Linked DNA regions of Homo sapiens: region 2 is linked to region 1. The links come from fine-mapping of genetic effects on gene expression. Tissue or cell type: whole blood. Region 1 holds a variant in brackets; the other region holds the start of a gene. All regions are shown on one strand. Distances are between the middles of the regions.

Region 1 (10,576 bases):
GAGATTCAGTGCTGACTTTACAACAATGGAGTGGGATGGGACAAGTGGTCTGTTGGGAGAATTTATCTATTTGGTATCTTCACTGGGAACTGGAAGTGGGTGAATAGAAATAAAAGGGTTTTGAGATGAGTGCTTGAGATACGACAAAGGAAGTTTTCACAGGCTTTGGTGTGAAAAACCACTTTGCTATTTTGAGCCTTTGTGACTCAAAGAAGATGGTACACTGAAGAAAGAAAAAGTCAGGAAGATGAATCTGTTTGCTAAGGATTTATTTTGTTTAATGTGATTGAGGTCCACTGGGGTCATGCTTAGTGAGCTGTTCAAAGATGCTTTCCTGAATGTTTCTGCAGCGGGAAAGCCACAGAAGTAGTAGGTTGTCTAAAACAATAGTTGCCACCAGCCAGCTTTCCAGTTTTTCAGGAAAATGCTATGAGTACAATATATTAATATGGATAGATTTAAATCATTAAAAAAACTTCTCTGATGCCTGTGAGCTGTGGTATATGTCAGCTGTTAATTTTCTTATCCTTTTCTTAGATAACATTTTATTTAATAGAGCTGTCTTATAAGTTGTAAAGTGAGGTTTATAGATTTACCATCACTTCTGACATCTTCAGATCTCCTCTTTAAAAGTACAAAATAGAACTTTGCAGTAAAAATAAAATAGTATAAACAGATTTTTTTTTAGCCTCTGAAAACCACTATATATTAGTTTGCATTAACCACTATACGTAGAAATATCTTCCTGTTCAAATGTAGTTATGTGATACTTTGTGAAAATAGGGCCTTAATATTTAGGGGTTAAAATTAATTCAAAATATTTTCAGTAAGAATGGGCCAACTTGGCCCACATACTGTAGTACAAGCTGATAAGTAGTCATTAGAAGATGATGATCTAAGACTACTAAATAAGCTCTCACAGACAGGTCATATGAAACCACGTTTATATCTAATGATTTAAGTGTAAAGCATGTAGGCAAACGCTACTAGTCATCACACTGTAATGTACAGCTTTCAGTACAGAAAATTTGGATAAATGTTCTGCAGCTATATCCAGAAATCAGTTTTTCATTAATTTCTCTTTCTATGTTTTGTCAGATACAGTAATTATATCACAAGCAGTCAAATTCTAAAATGGTATGTGTAGAGAAAAGAAGCAACAGAGTTCTTGCCATTCCTAATTCTGATTACCCTAATTTGGGATAAATATTTCCTTCTTAATTAATTGGTTAATGCATTAAGATTGTGAGCTGAAAGGTATCATAAGTGCAATTATTATTTGTATGAGGATTCTTCGTTCATAATTGGCAAAAAGTGAAACAAAAGGAATAACCAAAAATCATAACAAATAGCATCAGCATTTAAAAGCAAATTTCTAGAAATGATTACTATAGGACTTTAAACAAATTTTTTACATCAGTGATATGATTTTTAATATTTTTAATATTCAGAAGGCTTTTTATGTAAGTGCATATATCAACATTATCAGTTATACCTTCTTACTGATAAATTCCTGCTGTCAGTCTCTCCACAGCTCTACCATGTTCTTTTTCTCCTTACTTTCTCGTCTCAAGTTCATTAGTTGAGAAGGATGCTTACTATTACTCTGTCCAAATTTGGTAGTGGTTTTCTCAATTTTGGGCATTTCATGTTCAATTAAAATTTATTTAATTGAACTTTTGAAAGAACTTTCCCAGCCATATAGAGATGTATTTACATTATAGATTCATTTCCAGATAACAGTCACACAGAGACTTCTTTTCTGTTACTTTTTTCTTGCCTTTGATAATGACATTAATAATTTAATAATAAACTATTAACATATTAACAGATATAATAGATGTTAATATTAATATAATTTATGTGTGGTTCTATAAGAATAGACACTTCGATATCATGATAGAAAGATTCTTGATTATGATGCAACTTGAATATATTAAACACTAAACTTTCAGCTTATGATGCCATTAACAGAACTTTTAACTTATGATGCCTTTAATACTTTATTCCTGTGATAAGATGTGAATGGAAGGAAAAAATAAATATTACTTTTTGGTGGAAAAGTGTACCCAGTTGTTTATTCATACAGAAAATAATTATTGAATGTCAGTTTCTGTATGCCAGGCACTGTTTCAGGCACCTAGGATACTGTGGTGGACCAAAATCTTATACTCATATCTTTTCTCCCAAGTGAATTTTGCTATATCATTATTGTGCTCCTCTATAAAGAATTAGAATAACTTCATAATAATAAAAAATTATAAGTTGACTCCATTAAAAAAAAGCTGAAAAACAGCTGATTAAATCCTATTGTATGTAAAACTGAATTTTGTTTTATGCGTGCTTCTAGATAAATAGTGATAGAGTTCTTGAGTGTTTTAATGAAGTGTTTTAATGCAGGTGAATGCTTTGGACTGATGTCAACAGTGAATGTTAATGATTTTTGAGCATGGTTGGCACTATGAATTGGTTGTTTTTAATTTTTTGAAACTAAGTACATTGACGCAGATTTATATGATCTGATGATATCTTATTGGCTATGATTAACCAGAATATGTGATATTTAAACGTTGAAAATGCATTAAAGGATCAAGAAAACAGCTTGTCTTTATGACTTTTTTTTTTTAAGTTTTAAAAACACTGAGCCAAATTTTGGATTTAACATTCCCAAGCTATGGCCTAAGAGAAAGACAAATTTAACAGAATGAGAGTAAATGAAGGGCTGGCCCATCAGTGATCTCTTTTTATAAATTTACAACTTCCAAGAAAAGCTAACTAATAGAAGTATATCATGTCTTGCTTTTTCACAAGATGTAAAATACGGGAATACATGTAGACTAAGAATGGTAAATTTTTAAGTTACCTCGTTTGTAAGGGAAAAAAGATTCCCCTTTTTTCTCATTTACATTTAAAATAAATCCTCAATATTATATGGAACTATTTATAATATAGTGAAACCCATTTTATTTGAACATACAAATATAAAAATTTCTGGTAGTCTGCAGCTAATATGCACTGTCTGAAGCTAATAGGTTGTGCAGAATACTGCTGCTATTTGAGTAAAAGTTAATGCTTTTGAGACCAGCTAATACACTTAACTACACTGTATGAGCTGTGGGTGTTCCGCTTATTTTTATTACAGGCTTTATTACTGTGCAATTTTGTTGTACATTAACAATCATCCACTTTAAACTAGTGCTTAAATACTTATTGAATGTGGTAGCCAAAGAGCAAAAAAAAGATCTCAATGTAACATCCAATTGCTTACTAACATAACCTGGATTGTGATTTATCTCTAATTTTATGACAGTAATATTTCAGTATCAAACTAGAATTCTGAAGAGAATAAAGTTTGCATCCCCCAAATGACACAATTGTGCATTAGCTCTACTTAACTAGACAAAATTTAAAGGCAAAAAATTCTTGGTACGAAACAGATACTCCCAAAATGATCACCCTATGTGTGTCCAAAGGAGTTCTCACTATATTGTGTAAGTCTTCTTCCCTCCATTATTTAAATAGTTATAAATTTTCATTTTATTATGTGTATATTAGACTATATATTTTATAATTTTCCTCTCTGTAAATGTACAAATATGCAAACTTGTATAAATTAGGTAATTGCATAAAAATTGAAAGGCATAAAGATGTACTACTGAGTTCAGGAAACAGTTGGATTGGGGGTGTGTTTAATAAGTAGCACAATTAAGATGTGAGAAGGAAAAACTGAAGAAAAGGAAATTCTCTCAGTGTAATGCTTTATTAGCTCCAATTTTCCCCTTGTCTCTTATCTGAAGCAAGTGATTTTTTTCCATTTGCTTAAAAATAAAGCATTTGCGCACAGAATGTTAGCTCATTAAAAAGACCTTTATTGCCATAAATCGCTGCATCATTTGCATATCCAGATTCACAGAATCAAATTACAGTTCAACCAAGTATTTAGTATCTGGAAAGCAGTCTTGGTTTCATGTCTACTTATTTTCCCAAAACTCTTGTTAATTCTCCTTATAGTTGTTTTCTTAGTGGCTGAAATTAAGTGATGTCTAGTAAATAAGCCAGATTGCTTCTTAAATAAAATCTGGCCTGTTATTTATGTCCCCACCTATTGTTTCAAACTCTATAATTTGAACTTACACACTTGAAATCAATAGTAATAGTTATGGTGATAGGGACAGGTGATGGGATAAGGATTTTATTAGTAGAATCAGTCATGAGTCTAAAACTGCACTGCTAGATACAACACACAATAATAACTGCTAGAGATAATACTTAACCGTAACCTGCAGAGTAAATATTCTTAATCCTAGTTTACAGAATAAAAAGCTTGGAGATAAAAGTTAAGTTACTTGGTGTGAGGTCTGATTCACACAGCCAGTAAGTGGTGGTTTTGGTCACTTCCTCCTCACCCCTTTGACAAGGGAAGGATTCCTGCCATAGGGTTATGAGGATGGCTGAACACGTCAGTTGGGCTCAGCAGCAGTTAGTTACCTATGTTCACAGCTAAGGCAAAGAGGACCCTGTGCCTCAAGTGGGGTCACGTGGAGTTGCACTTGGGAACAGAGTAAACAACTAGGAGCTATGGGAGGCAGGCTTTGTAGTATCAAGAGGGTGGGGGTATCCCCTGGTTCCCATGGAAGGATGTGATTGGCTTGTTTGAATAATTCCTCAAGCTGACAAGAAACTGAAACCTACTATTCAAGGATAAGGAAGAACTGCATCTGGCCCCTTTGGTAAGGTGGATGGTTTCGCTAGGGGCCTTTATTCATGAGAGCAGAGTGGAGAGGGGAACGTATGGGTTACGTCGGTGGTCCCCAACCTTTTTGGCACCAAGGTCTGGTTTTGTGGAAGACAGTTATTCCACGGCAGGGGCGGGGCAGGCTGGTTTGGGGATGAAACTCTTCTGCCTCAGATCATCAAGCGTTAGTTAGATTCTCATAAGGAGCGCACAGTCTAGATACCTCGCACGCACAGTTCACAATAGGATCCCCACTGCTATGAGGATCTAATGCCACTGCTGATCTGACAGAGGTGGAACTCAGGCAACAATGCTTGCTCCCCAGCCGCTCACCTCCTGCTGTGCGGCCCAGTTCCTAACAGGCTACAGACTGTTAGCAGTCTGTGGCCCAGGGTTTGGGGATCCCTGGGTTAGATCATTCAAGGCCTTCCCGATTTTACCAGGTGTCAAAGCGGCACATGATATTGAACCTTAATTTTAGGTGTTATACCACAGTGGCTAAACTAGAGTTCTGATTGTGAACTTTCATGACTCCAGTGCCCAGGTTCATTCTGCTGTTCCATGATATTTTTCTTCTTGCCAGAATGACATGTTAACATTTCGTTAGTAATTGAGTACTTTGCTTTCACTGGGCATTTCTTAGTCCTGCGTTCTTCAGAATTCGTACACTGTAGCATCTGTTGTATTCTCATAGAAAACTGGAGCGCTCTCATTTAGAAGACATTTGAAGATTTGTTTTCCTTTAAAGGAAAATCTGAGTATAAGTTCTAATTATATCTTGATTTACAGAAG[A/AT]TTTTTTTTTTTTCCTATTCTCAAAGCTGCAGTGAGCTGCGATTGAGCCGCTACACTCCAACCTTGGTGACAGGGCAAGATGCTGTCCCAAAAAACAAAAACAAAAACTATACTCCCTCCCCAAAACAAAATCTTATTTTTCCATGTTCCATCTTATTTTTATTAGAACGTCTTAAGTTCCCCCTCTGCAGCCATGAAACTGGCATACCACAGGTCTGGAATGCCTCTCTGTCTCTCCATTTGTATCTCCGACATTAGACCATTTCAGCCACTCCTGCATGCAGTTACACCCACCTCATTTTTATCACAGTTAGGGAATGTTTCACAGAGTATTTTGCATAATACTATGAGCTGGGTGCTACAAGACATTTAAAAAATAATAGCTGGTTTCTGCCATTGACACTCTCACTGTGGAGAACAAGACATAAGAGTTGTGTAGTGTAAAGGTAAATCAGTACACATAGAACCCAGACTCCTAACCCAGGCCCACAGGCCATACGTGAGCTGGCCCCTGCCTGCTTCTGGAGGCTCATCTCTTGTTCTTTCTCCCTTTCACTTGACTCTGGCCACGTTGGCCTTCCTTCCACTTCCCACACACGCCAGGTTTTTCTCATCCCAGGGCCTTTCTCCTTGTAGTTTACTTGGCCTGAAAAACTCATCCTTACATGTCTGACTCTCTTTTTTCAGGTCTCATTGCAACTACTATTTATAGGGATAGTTCTTCCTTGACCATGCCACCTAAAACTGGCCCTTTTGACTTTTCCATGCATAGTAGGTCCCATGCCACCCACTTAATACCTGTGTAATTTTTCCAAGATGTTTAATTTCTCTGTGCCACAGTTTGCTAATCTGTAAATCCAGGAGTATTTTAATAGATTAGGTTTTTGTGACAGTTAAATGCATTAATATCATGTAAAGTGCTAATTATAAGAATCTCTGGCATATAGTGATTGCTCAGCAAATGCAATCAGTTTCTGACCTTCATCTTCATCATTAAGGGTAAAAGAAGTAGTGTAAAACGTAAGTACTATAGGAGCTCAGAAAGGAGAGGAATGCCGGAGGCCCTGAATCACCATGAACACTTTCCTTGTGACAGTAGAATCGAACCTCACTGCTTCTGTATAGTGTCTGGCATGTTTCCGTCAGACAGGCACTCCCTCCTCCTTTGGATTTCTACGTCCTTTTGGTTCTTTGTGTGATACTTGTATCGTAGATTGTGTATATGTTCTCACAGAAAAGGTCATCCTGCATCTCTGCATCCTCAGCATTGTGTGCCGCACACAGGACAGGTGGCCACTTATTTGATTAACATGAGAAAAACACAGAGATTCCATGAAATCAGCAAGTTTTAAACACCCTCAGTGTGGGCAGTAAATGCAGTATGAGCACAGTGACTACAAAGATCAGTTACTGGAAATGACCAAGTTGGAACAGTGAGGGGCAGACTATTGTATGGTCTTAAATTGGCTTTAGAGTCAGATTAATTCAGCAGATTTGAAGAGCATCATTTCATGCCAGTGTCTAAGCTCAGATTGTAGGATCACAAACATGAACCAGTACAGGTTTCTGTAAAGCATTTTAACTTGATTCAGGTGGGACTTCAGTGAGTAAAGCAAGAAAGGTGTTCCAGACAAGCTTCAGAAAGAGCAAAAGTAAAGGTGCAGAGTTGAGAAGGTTCAGGAATTCAGGTTCTCTAGAGAAAAGATTTCCTCATGCTGGAGCAAGAGGAAATAAGGCTGAAGTGAGGGGGTCCAAATTATGGAGGATTTAGGGTACCAGAACCAGAACATCAGCTTTATTCCATAGGAGCCTGTGGAAGGTTTGAGCAAAGGATTGGCAGAAATAGTACTCAAAATTAGATGATACATTTCTGTATTTTCTGTAGTGATAGAAGTTCCTTGAACTTAAATTTGAAAAGGTTTGAATTAAAAGGGACAGATGTTCTCAAGTTATATACTAGACATTTTCAGTAGTTGTACGGTTTTTGAGCTTTTATTAGTTGGTCCTAAGTAAGTTTTATAGCATTATGATAGGCAGTTGGTGACAGCTTAGTCATGTGTTCTTTCTTGAGTAATAATTAAAGTATTAATATTTTTCCTTTTCATTATATTTTATGCATCATGGTTTGATATATGCTTGAAATATTTACTAAATTAGATATTGCTGCATGTGGTCCATCCCACATATAAATGGAAAAGAGAAACTTAACATAGTTCATAAATTAAAATATTTGGTTTCAGCTGTATTCATATTGAAACCATAAAAGAATCAGAATTACTGTGGGTTTATGATTGTCAGGTTACCACCATCACTACAAATTTTCTGATAACAACATATTAGTATTCTGATAAGGTTTGTGGCTTCTTTGCAAGGATATTTGAATACTACTCAACACACTACATAATGGTTAACTATTGTTGTCTTTATTTTAAGGAAGGCATGAATATTGTTAGATTTGCCCCTAAGTAATTGAGTGATCATTTTTATATACAAGAAAATCAGAGTAGAATGCAAAATTTGGAACAGGAACTCAATAATACTTATAAATAAGTTGATTCAAAGAAATGTTTCAATTTCTTGACATTGAATTCATGATGTTTTGCTTTTAACATGTGATTTTTAAAAAATACTGTTATGTGTACAGGGGAAGGCTAACCTGAGACTTTCCCTTCATGCGTATTCTTCCTGTGCACTGCAAAAGGAAACTGTGTGACTGCTTTCCTTCCTGACTGGCCATCACATAGGGTTACTGGCAGATGCCAGGAATCCAAGGACTAAAGGAATAAAGGGTGTGTGTTATAGTACCTGCGCTAAGAGATACTGTCAAACTCAGAGGCACCCCTCCTCCTCCATGTCTTAACCCTAGAATTGTTTTAGAACTTCTTATGGATAAGTGTTTGGATTAAGGGAGATCTGGGAAATGGGATTTGAATTTTAAGCAAGTGAGCCCTGGGGATGGCTAGCTGCCCAAAGTCTCTAGGACCCCAAAGAGATTATGAGAGAGAACGTTGAGAGGTCTGGAATGAATTATACATACTCTTATAATGAACTTTCTCCAGCTTGTCCTTGAGCAGCTGTCTCCATCCCATCCCTCAAGTGCTTTGGAACCCACATCTTATAACAATGGAAAGATAGATAACCTTTTATTTTAATGTGTTTATTTTTATTTTAATGTATTTAAGTAGTTTAAACACTTTCAGCGAAAACGCATTGTATTTCTCACTCCATTCCTCAATCCAGATGTATAACTAAAGTACCATAGTGCTGTCCATTATTAGCCCATTTTGTGTTTTAACCTATACAGTTTGAGGAACAAGAAACCTACCTGACATCAAGATTATACTATCAGTGAAGCCAGAGAAGCTATACTTATTCATTGTAGACATTCTTATCTTTTTAAATTTTTTATATTAAAAAAAAAAAAGAGGCTGGGCATTGTGTATCACGCCTGTAATCCCAGTGCTTTGGGAGGCCGAGGTGGGTGGATCACGAACGAGGTCAGGAGTTCAAGACCAGCCTGGCCAAGATGGTGAAACCCCATCTCTACTAAAAATACAAAAATTAGCCAGGTGCAGTGGCAGGTGCCTGTAATCCCAGCTACTCGGAGGGCTGACGCAGGAGAATCGCTTGAACTCAGGGGTCGGAGGTTGCAGTGAGCCAAGATCACGCCACTGCACTCTAGCCTGAGTGACAGAGTGAGACTCTGTCTCAAAAGAAAAAAAGGAAAAATAATGGGGTCTCACTATGTTGCCCAGGCTGGTCTCAAACTCCTGGACTCAAGCAATCCTTGCATCTCGTCCTCCCAAAGTGCTGAGATTACAGGCATGGGCCATTGTACCCGGCTATCTTATCTTCTTTATATAGATATCTAATAAGATGTAAAATACTGACCTGCATTATCTCCATGTTAACATTTACACTTCAAAATCTGTAAACGGACCCACGTTCATACGCGTGAACAGAAATCTTTCAGCAACAAAAGAGAAAATTGTATTTCTCGATAGAAAGGAAGTGGTCAGATCATGCCAGCCAAACAAATCTGTCAGGCTTTGAAATATAGAACCGTTAGGTAAGATACTGAGAAAAAGGATAAAGTAAGATCAGCCTAAATGTTTCAGTCTAGTTAAGTTGATTTGTATATTACTTAGAAATTTCATTTTCAGGGAAATAGTTTTCAGATTTAAATAACTGTAAAGAGCTGAGTTATTCTTTGACTTGGATTTAAAAAAAAAGAAAAAAAGTGTCCTGAAGTCATTTCCTGCCAGTTTGTCCCCCCAACTTTTTTTCCTGCTCTTCCTGTAACTGGTTCTTGTTACGGCAATGTAGCTGTATATTTAAATCCTAAGAGACTCGCTTATTGTGAGTAGGCAGGGTCAGTAGTCTGCTGAAACAAGCACAGGAAACTTGAAACACCTAGGGGCTATTTTAAAAATCCCTTGCCACTGACATTTTAGTTAGAATTCTAAAGAGAGAATGGGCTGTTTGGATACTGAGCTCCAGTACAAAAGAGCTGGGGTTTTTACACCGACTTGCAAACCACTAAAATCATTTGACCTGGTGTTGTGTCACTTGGGTATTCTGAAGCATCAGATGAAAACTAATATCCACCCTGCAAGGTTGGCAGGCAACAATTGTACCTGTGAAGTGAGCATCTATCAAAGAATTGGGGAAGGAAGGCCGGGCGCAGTGGCTCACGCCTGTAATCCCAGCCAGTACTTTGGGAGGCCAAGGCGGGCAGATCACGACGTCATGAGATCGAGACCGTCCTGGCTAACACAGTGAAACCACGTCTCTACTAAAAATCCAAAAAAAAAAAAAAAAAAAAATTAGCTGGGCATGGTGGCGGGCGCCTGTAGTCCCAGCTACTCGGGAGGCTGAGGCCAGGGAATGGCGTGAACCCGGGAGGCAGAGCTTGCAGTGAGCCGAGATCGCGCCACTGCACTCCAGCCTGGGCGACAAAGCGAGACTCCGTCTCAAAAAAAAAAAAAAAAGAATTGGGTAAGGAAACTTAATGTGTGGAGGAGATGCCACCATCTCTGAAGCACAGAC
Region 2 (10,576 bases), 230 kb before region 1:
GCTCATGGTCACATAAGCAGCAGCAGAACCAGGATCTAGAAACAAGATAGCTCAGTTCCAAAGCATCTCTGCAATGCCCAGGAAAGGCGCCAACCAGGGCAAGGCTTTTCCGTCTGCTTCTTTCTGAGGTTTCTCCATATTTTTATTTATTGTACTAATAGCATTATAATAACTACAACAAAGAAAACCTCAACTACAATCTCATTGCTCAACAAATCTCCGATTCTTTCCTTTCTGTTTGGTTAGTCCTCTCCACAGCCAGTTCTTCGTTTCTTACTCCTGTGGTATCTAAAGACAGCCCCTCAGAACCACTTTTCTTTTTTTTCCTGGCCTGTGCTGTCTCTTGAGATCCTTTACTTATGTCTCAGTACCTCCTTAAGCCTCTATGTTTGCAGTTACTGAGAAGTTAGGTGCAATAGTCCATTTCAGGAGTTAGTGGGACTCCTCTCCCTGGAAGACCTACCATGACAGCAACCTCCTTGATACATGGAGAACTTGAGGGGGAACTTCATCATTAGTGAGCAGAGAGCATGGTGTAGTAATCATCTATTGATGCATAACAAATTACCCTTAAAACTTAGTGGCTGAAAATAACAAACATTATCTCCAGATTCCAGAGTGGCTTAGCTGGGTGTTTCTGGCTCAAGGACTTTCAAGAGTTTGCAGTTAAGATGTTGATCAGGGCTTCATTATCTGAAGGCTTAGCTAAGGCTGAAGGATCTGCTTTAAAGCTTACACATGTGGATGTTAGCGGGTCTTATTTTTTAGTCACATGGGCCTCTCCACAGGGCTGCTCACAATATGGCAGCTAGCTTTCCCCAGAGTCAGTGACAGCAAAGAGAGAGAGAGAGCATCAGTGTGTGCGCAACCAAGATGGAAGCCCTAAACTAATCTTGGAAGTGACATACCCTCCTTTCTCACAGCATTACACCAACCCTAGCATGACGTAGGAGGGGATTACACAAGGGTGTGAATACCAAGAGGCAGGGATCAGTGGGACATCTTAGAGACTGATTACCATACTCAGGCAACGTCTAGGGGTGAGAGGAGCAGCCACACTTCTATGTTTGCATCTTAATTTACATGAATGGCACCCCCTGATACTTTGCAGTGTACAAAATACACGATCATACATAGTGGTCCAGGTAGCAGTTCCTGAACAAATGGGGAAGTCAGGGGAATTTGTCCTCAGTACACTTCTATTCCCTGCTAGAATTTCATTTATTTATTTATGAAACAAACATTTTTTTAAAGCACCTGGTCGTACCTTTGCGTTGGTACTGAACTAGGTAGGTAATGGGGTTGCAGTTCTATTGGAGTTTCAATTTTCCTACACCACTGTTGCCCTTAAGTATCCAAAACATTCGGGGTGACTACAGCCTCCTTCAAGCCAGACAGTATGCAACAGATCATTGTTTTCTATCCCATTCTTTGGAAAACCTGAGCTAATATGATGTTTCTTTCAAAGGGTATAATATAAATATGTAATAACCCCTGATAATTGGGTGCCTAACAAGAACAGAAGTTGCCTAAATAAGTAGCAGGGCTCTACCAGTATAATGCTTCTGCTCAAATTCAGCCCAGTTCCCCTGAGAGAGGTCTTTTCTATCACCCATCCAGTCAAACTGGAAAACTAACTGTGGCTCTACTTACTCACGAAGTTGGCAGTAACAACGTTTTAAGAAGGACCCTTCAAAAAACATTCCAATTTGCCAGTTGCAGGGGGAAAAAACGTAGGCTCTAAATTAATGATCAGAAATAAGAAATGTAAGAAAGGAGTGAGTTCATGACGACAGACTGATGGACCAGAGCAGAAAATATAAGGAAGATGAGCTATTTGTCTTGGAGACCAAGTTTGCACCGCAGAAGAGAGAAATAGAGAAAATCAAATAAATATTTATGTCTGTAACACCAGACTCATGGTAAAGTGTCCTTAAGTTCACAGACTCCAGAGCCAAACTGCTGATTTCGAGTCCCAGCTCTGCTCCTCACTAGCTATGTGACTGTAGGTGAGTGACTTAATCCCTCCGTACCTCAGTATTCTCATCTGTACAGTGGGGCTGATTGGATAAAACCAACCTGTGTGGTGGTTGTGACCTAGTATAACTAAAGTGCTTAGCATGCTGCCTAGCACAAATTAAGAACACGGTAAGTACTAATTATTGAAGAAATTAGAAACAATACCTATTGTGTCATCAACTGAAAGAGACCAATTTCTTTCACTCGGTCATTATCTATTGAATATATACAGCACTGAACCCCAGACGACGAAATCCTTTTTCTCAAGGTGCTTTTACGTGGGAGGGCTGGGAGAGGGAGGAAAAAGAAAGCAGAAGGGGGAAACTAATAAATAAGTAAAAAAATGTATTATGTCAGGTGGTGATCATGGAGAAAAAGCAGAGGATGTGGATAGGAAGTTCTGGGGGAGGAGTGGGAGGAAAGAATGTTCTAGAGATAGGAAATAGTAAGTACACAGGTCTTGAGGCTGAGGAATGCTTGGTGTGTCCATAACTGCAAGGCCGGTGTGGCTGGAAGGAGACGAGGATGGAGTGAAATCGTACAGCTTGAGGTCAGGGGAATCCTGGCTGGGAATGGTGGGCACATCATGCAGGCCATGTATCCATATTTTGCACTTTGGCTGTTGCTCTATGATGGGAAGCCACTGGAATTTTTGAGAAGAAGAGAGACATAATCTAATCTTTGTTTTAAAGGACAGTCGGCTGTGTGTAGGTGTTGGGGAGGGAGGAGGCGGAGAGTGGGAGGTAGAAAGATCAGGTAGGAGATAATTATTGAGAGATGATGCCTTAGACCAGGACATTAGCAGTGGGGAGGGGAGTGAGACGGAGTGGACATTTTCACCATATATTTGTGAAAACAGAGTCAACAGAATTTGCTGACGAATGTGATGCTGAGTGTACAACAGAGAAGGTTCAGACATAGGGAAGTTCTGAGGACAAGGATTTTTTTCTTTTATTCAATGTCATATATCTACCACCTAGACAGTGCCTGGTATCAATAAATATTCCTTGAATAAATGAAAAGGGTAACTGATTTGTATTAAACCCATTTTGAACTTAGTAAATAGCAGTTAAAACATCTACAGTCAAATGAAGTACTGTAGCAACCATAATTTCAGCAATTAAGCAGTGAAAGATCTTCCAATCCTTTCCTCCACAAAGATAGAAGTTAATTTTGCTGCATCCCTGGACACCCCGTTGCCAACGACCCAGCATTCCGTTGGTAAGTGAGGCTGGAGGTTGGAGTGGGAGAAATTTCGTGGAAGCTAAGTTCGCAAAGCAGGTACGTTTTTTTTTTTTTTTTAAACGGTTATTTGGGATGAGGAGTACAACGGAACCTAATGTTCCCTCATGCCACCTACAGCACTGCTACTGTTCCCATATCCTTCAACTGGGCATGAAGGCAGCTTCCCACTCACTCTGACAGTGGTGCACCCTGTACCCCCACCCCTCTCTTCAATACCCCAGGGCTAAACGGCCCGAAGCTCCTCTCTACCGGCTGGTGCGCATTCTGGGCCAGGGCGAGCCAAAAGGCAGAAGGGCCTTCGTGCTGCAGTGTCTGGTGAAGACTCAGGCTTAGCCTGGAAGAAGTTTCCAGGCCAACGTGAAGTTTTCCTGTCTTGGGTACATGCGAGCCCCACGCGTCTGCGAGTTTGGGTTAGTGTGTCAACAGGGTCAGTCCCCGTATCTACTTTGCGAAAGCTTCGAGGCGAGCGTGAAGTCAAGGGCTGCGGTGGATGGGGGTAAAAGGCCTCCTCGTCCCACTGCCTGCACCGTCTTGGGGTAACCCCTAACCCCCAGCCGGCGTTTCCCTTTAATGCGCGTGCCCGGCAAGGTCCTCGCGTCCCCTCCCCTCAAGCCACCCCGTCAGCCTCGGTTTCCCCCACTTCTCCCCGTCCTTGTCGTTCCTTCCCCGTGGGACGCCCCTCGCTCACCCCCGTCAGAGCCCAGTCTGCGCGCGGGACCCAGCTGTCACTTTACTTTTCCTCGCCGCCTCCCCACCCCCTCTCCCGACCGGCGGGGCAGCCCGCCCGGGCGCGCTCCCGCCCCCGCCCCCTCGCGGCCGCGCGCCGGAGGAGGAGGGGCGGGGGGAGGAGGGAGGCGCGCGGCGCCGCATGGCCGACGTGGGGCTCGCGCTCTCGCGGTCTCTCCCGGGCGGGCGCGCAGGCACGCGCACTCGCGGGTGCGCGCGCGGACGGCCGGGCGGCGGCGGCTCCCGGAGGTGGTGGCTTCACTTTCCAGGACTCAGGGGCAGCCACAGCGACAGCCGCGGGCAGCAGCCTCAGGAGCCGGAGCTGGAACGGCCGGGGGCGGCGGCAGCGGCGGCGCTGAGGGTGAGTCCGGGCGGGCGCGAGCGCGGCGGGGACAGGCGTGGTCGGGTGCGTGGTGCGTGGGTCCGGCTTTCGGTGACTAGACGGTCCGCAGGGGACATCCCGTCCCTGGGGCCTCCCCAGTCTCCCTCCCCCTCGCGCCTGGGCAGCTCTCTCCCAGGGCTTCGGCTCGAGCCTGCGACCTGCACGGACACCCCCCCCTCAGGTATTCGCTCGGGCCGCGCCGGTGCCTCCCCTCCTCGGGCGTCCTCCCTCTCGCTGACGTCCTCCTCACTCCCCCGACCTCCCCTCCGCGTCGCAGGTCTCTGCTTACACCGCTCGTGCCCTAGTTCCCTCCTTCCTCGCTCCCCGTGCCCGGTTCCCTACGCCCCCTCCCGCGAGCCTCCTGCCCCCGTTTCTCGCCCTTTCTACCCCTCCCCCTTCTTCCCATCCCCCCCTTCTGCCTCTTCTCTCCCTGTCCTCCTTCTACCCCCTTCCGTTCTCAGTTCCCCATCCTTCTCAACCCTCCCAGCGCTTTCCTTCTCCTAGCCGCATCCTGGAACTAAGTCTTTTCAAAAGTACAGGATAAATGTCACGGTGGAAAGTGCCCGGCTTGATCTTTTGCTATTTTCCCTAATTGCATAATTGCTGCACATGGTGTGTCTCCTGGCGAGTGCCGGGTTTGGCTCCTTCGCCGCCGCACCCCGGTGGCCCGCCCGGAGAAGACCTTGTGGGGTATATTTGTGTGTGTCCTGGTGAGGGGTGTGTGTTGTATTGGTCTTTTGTGATGCCTGGCGCTTGTCACAGTTTGGAACCGAAGCCCATTTTTCTCTGGTCTCTTCTCTGCAGCCCCCACTGGCCTGGTTTGAAACTGGATTCCCTCTGTCCTCTCCCCCTTCCCGCCCACCCCACTTCTCCCCCTCTTTTCTCCGATCTCTCTCATAATGTTTTGATCTTTTTGCCCTTTACCATTTCTAATGAAGATAAAGCGTGGCTTCTTGTGGCTTTTTTCCCCCACGACCAACCAGAAATGTCCAATCCATCTTCCCTTAAGGAAATTAAGGCTGCTTTAGAAAGACATCATCCTGTGCTCGGTGGCTGTTAGACCCATTTGCATGTTTTCAAGATTCATCGTTTTGTATTGTGTATTCTTGAGAGTCTACTAAAATATTTTTATTTAAAAGTACGAAAGGAAGTGCTAGGGTTTACCCTCAAAGTATCTCGCGGTTCTAAAGGATTTTACGCTCTTCTTAGTTTTTAATCCCTGATTTCTTTAAAAAGTATGTTTCTAGATATGTGATAATTCAGTCTGGACTTTGTGAATCTAAATATTTGCCTTTACTACGGCAATTTGGATGCTCCTTGGCTCTTTGGAATTCTGTATGTGGGCTGACGCTGAAATAGAGTGTTTTCATATAATGCCATACCCCATTCTCTTTCCCCTGCAGCACCTTTTACCCCCAAATCAGGTGTTCCACTGTTATTTTCTGCATAAATGTCTTTGCAGTTAAATTTAAAGCTGGATATTGCTGTGTGCATATACTATATATTTATTTTACATTTTAGAAAAGTTTAGAAACATGAGTAGGAAGACAGCAAGACATATATGACAGAATTAAACGCTTTCCTGTTATAAAAGCTTAAATGAACACTTGGTTTTGCAGTTTTATACTAGTAGATACTGTTATAAGGCTTACCTGGGTAGTAGGCTGGATTTATGGAATGACTATAGTTGCCTTTATGTAGTCAGTAATATTTCAAGCCAAATCATTTCATTTTTATGGAACATGTGAGTTTCATTCACTGTATGTTGCTAATTTCCAGGACTGTAATTACAACATAGGGTACATAGCTAATACAAGCTTAGACAGTTTGTGTTGAAGAAGTAACAATATGTAAGCCTCTTAATATAGTTTTAGGAAGGACTACTTATTTTATGGTTAAAAATTAAATTTTACTTTGAGTTATGAAGTAAGCGTATTTATCTCTCTCAATATCTTTGAAAGTATCATTGGAGAGTAGCTGTTTGTTTATAACCCTGGGATTTAAGTTTATCTTCCCTGTAGATGAGATAATCGGATCAGATTAGCTATTTAGGAATTAATTTTAAAATGCTAATTTAGAAGATAATGTTTAAAGGATTTTAATTCAGGAATTTTTATTCATTTGTACTTCAGAGAGACAAGACATCAAGTTTACACTTACGACTAATTAAATTGATTCATAGACTACTTTTTCTTCATAAAAATTCGTTGCACCTGAGTGGTACAATAATTTTTTTCTATACTTTTTCTGTAATCAAGCATTCAAAAAACAAACCCAGGAGAAATTCCTTTTATTATTGATATTTGAAAAAGAGATGTGAAAACTTTATTTCTAAAAGTTCCTATAGTGGTTATCAATGGCCTCAGATGGACTTATCATTTGTAGGTTAACATTTGGATGAAATATGTCTTAACTCAAAAGTGGGAATAATTCTTTTCCTTAATGTGAAACCAGAAATTACACCTCTGTTGGGGAATTTCTAATAGTATTTTTATTAGTTCTCTGGTGAGACTAATTTTTATTTTAATCTTCCTCTAATATTCGGCAGTAGAAATTTGAGTTTCAGATTATGGCTCAGATCACATCATTGAGTAATCTTTTTAAGTAATTATATAACTATGGCATTCGATAGTATGTAAATGCACATAAATAAGAATATTGAGAAGAATGTGTGGCTTTATAACTAATGTTATACACAACTGAAACTCTCAGCATAGTTTATTAAATCATAGTTTATTACGCTGAAGCTGCATCCTCAGTATAGAGAATATTATTTCATTGAGGTACCCATATATTTGTCATGGAATGGATTGCTCCTGTTTTAAAATGTATAAAATGATTTCTCACTCATTTCACATTTCTTAAGGTATTGCTGGCAGCATTTTGCTATATCTGAGCACCTTTCCCTGAGGATTGTTCTCTTTTTCACTCTCATGCATGCCGCCCTATCTGATATGCCATTATGTACATACTTACAAGATTTTAAACTTCTGATATATTTTAACTGAAAGAAGGTGAAAAAAAATATTAAATCCAAGAATGAGAATTTAGAGTGAAATAAAAATGAAAAAAAGCAAGAAATATGTTACGACTTTTAGAGCTAGATGTGAAACATACTGATATAAAATTTCAGTGTTCTATTAAGTGACTTTAGTGCTCATAAAAGATGTCACAGCTGTGGAGACTGGTGCTCTTCATTTACAGAATAGGTAGAAAAGTAGTCAGCTTTTCCGTTAGTATGTTTCAGAGCTGTTGGGGCAGATCTGTTTCTGTTTGGCATGGGGAGCTGTTGGGGTTGAAGGGGTGCTGGTGGTGGTGTGTGTGGTGTGTCAGTGAAAGGATTCACTATTTTCTGTTGACTCTTTGTGGCTCTGTGCTTCCTGATGCTTCCATTCTTTTGCAGTGCTTTTTGGTTTGTCTTACAAAAATTTCAGTCCATTAAAGATCGGTGTTACAACATTGCTTTGGCTTAGAGCAAGCTACAAGTTAAATCTTTAGTGATGATGAATTTTCATCAGTGTCAAATAGCTATCCATTTGGACTAAGTTATAGTAATTAAAAAATTTTGCTTTATTTGAGGTATCTTTACCTGTTCTTATTCTTGATCATATCAGAAACAGTTTTATTTCAAGTTGTAATTTGATTAAGAGTAATCAAAAGGATCCATTTCAAAAGGAATTTGTTCAGTGTACCTATAATTTTTAAAGATATATTTTTTGCTGTTAATGGTACTTATTAAGTATAGGTATTTTGTTTTTAAAAAGGTGTCTGAGAAGATAGCTATACAGTGCTGAAAGTGATTATTAGGTGACAAAACCATGGGGAGCACAAGGCCTTTTAGAGTCTGGGCATGAGTTTTGTTGGTTCAGTTCTGGATTTGTCAGAACACTTTAAGCTAGTCAGCTCATAAGGGATGTATTCATAGTCATCAAACTCAGAAATTGATTATGATAGAATGACAGTTGAGGAGAGATACTCCTTTTCACTTACTGGAATTGTTTGTGTCTGCTGTCTAGATTATAACAGCTACCTAAATATCAAGGTATTGAGGAAATTGAGTTGGTAATCAGAACTGCTTGGGGGGCCTGAACTCAGAGCAAAGGGAATTTGAAAGCCTTGAGGGATATTTTAGCCAGAATGTGGGGAAAAAAAAAAAAATCTTCAGTGTCTTCATCTCTTGTGAAATATGGTTGCTTTAGTATATAGCTGAATGCTGTCATATGGTTCAATTTTTATTTAGAATCATGCAGTCATGCAGGCCTCTGTGTTCTTCTGTTATCACAAAGGTTACTTAAAACCACTTACTAGTTTGGAGAATTTTAACCTTAGCCCAGCCCTGAGGATGTATTGATTGAATAGGGATTTGAAAGTGTCGTCCCATTTTTGTGTTCCCACAAGTATTTGTACTAACCTTCGTTTTTGTACTTAGCAAGTTGGCTAGTCGAGGTTTTTCACAGTTGTGGGACCAAAGGGCTTAGCACAGCGCCTGGTAGAGAGTAGACCCTTAATCATTTTTGTCTTATTTTCTGTAACAGCATTATTGATATATAATTCACATACTATAAAATTTACCCTTTAAAAATGTACAACTCTGTAGTTCTTAGAATATTTATTATTAGAATTGTGCAAGATTATAATTATCTAATTTAAGAACATTTTTATCACCGCACAGGGAAGCATCATACCCATTAGCCGTCACTCTTCACTACTCTCCCCTCACTCCCTGGCAACCACTTACCCATTTTATTTTTTTATTAATTTTTTTTTTGAGACAGGGTCTTGCTCTGTCACTCAGGCTGGAATGCAGTGGTATCAATCATATTTTTATTTTTTGTAGAGATCGAGTCCCACTACGTTGCCCAGGCTGGTGCTCCCTGAGCTTCCCAAAACATTGGGGATTACAGGCGTGAGGTTCACTACTGAATTTTATGTTTATGGATTTGCCTGTTCAGGACATTTCATATAAATAGTCAAACAGTTTGTGGTCCTTTGTGGCTGGCTTCTTTCACTTACCAGAATGTTTCAAGGTTCATCCATTTTGTAGCATGTAGACACAGTACTTCATTCTTTTTTATGGCTAACAGTACATTATGTGAATATACTACTATATTTTGTTCATCCATTCATTTGTTAGTGGATATTTGAGTTGTTTCCAGTTTTGATTATTATGAATAATGTTGCTATGAACATTTCATGTATAAATTTTGTATGTTTTCATTTTAGAATACATTTTGAATGGATGAAGGAAAAGTTTTAGCAACTCCCAAAGCTGCATTGTTTTGTAAATGACCAATTTAATCCATTTTATATTGAGATTTACTTGTTTTACTTTGAGGCTCATTCTCTGTGTTCTGGAGGTAGCTTACTGTAGTACAGCTAAATAAATGATTTTTGATTCTTTAATCCAGGATCTAAAATGTCCACTGAGGCACAAAGAGTTGATGACAGTCCAAGCACTAGTGGAGGAAGTTCCGATGGAGATCAACGTGAAAGTGTTCAGCAAGAACCAGAAAGAGAACAAGTTCAGCCCAAGAAAAAGGAGGGAAAAATATCCAGCAAAACCGCTGCTAAATTGTCAACTAGTGCTAAAAGGTACTTCAGTTATTATAACCTTTTTATTGTTGGTATCAATTTATCATCTTAAGTTCTATTTTTCTCTTGCATTTAATCATTTTTTCTGGGATGTCGGCCGTGAACTTCATGGATTTTTCTTTTCCCTTCAAGATGATCTCGTTTACATGGTTTTAACCATAGGGAACTTCAGTATTTAAAGTCAGTTAAATGGCAAGGCAAATTCATAACATACATTTCCATAGTGTGTTTGTGTGTTTATGTATTATCAGGGAAACATATACAGGGTGTGTATGTAAAATTGCAGTAGTTTCATTTATGGTTACTTGACCATAAATATTTTTTTTCTGTTCAGTAACACAGAATAGAGATTAGGAATCTTTGAAGTAGTTACTGAGTGAGTGACAGTTTATTTTCCACTACTCCCAGTTGGTAAAGTCAGAAATGCTGACATTAGCAACAGGTGCATCTTGGTTTCATTACATTAGTCAGTGGATCCATCTTGATACGGATTTTCTCTTTCTCTAGAGAATAGATGGATCTGGAAAGTAGGTATTTGAATGATTTTCTGTTGGTACTCAATCTCTTAAAATGATTGGCATGTCACTGGACTTAAAGGGAATCTGTTTGATA

The links. PIP is the estimated chance that this variant, and not a neighbour inherited with it, causes the effect.
Region 2: it holds the start of UBE2E2, and the variant in region 1 is fine-mapped to the expression of UBE2E2 in whole blood (INTERVAL, PIP above 0.99).

What each region holds. Positions count from the first base shown.
Region 1 is chr3:23,431,037-23,441,612 of GRCh38, forward strand. The region is part of intron 3 of UBE2E2 (ubiquitin conjugating enzyme E2 E2); the gene reads left to right. Among named protein-coding and RNA genes, the nearest start is that of UBE2E2, 230 kb to the left of the region's middle. RefSeq lists an enhancer at 10,439-10,576 and a cis regulatory region at 10,524. The variant A/AT (reference allele first, on the strand shown) is at 5,528.
Region 2 is chr3:23,198,912-23,209,487 of GRCh38, forward strand. It overlaps UBE2E2 (ubiquitin conjugating enzyme E2 E2), which reads left to right and starts at 4,416. Exons shown (of 6, transcript NM_152653.4): 1 at 4,416-4,553; 2 at 9,781-9,964. The coding sequence starts at 9,789. UBE2E2-DT (UBE2E2 divergent transcript) reads right to left here and starts at 4,082. Exons shown (of 2, transcript NR_136176.1): 1 at 3,953-4,082. RefSeq lists enhancers at 3,089-4,064, 3,477-3,536 and a silencer at 3,887-4,576.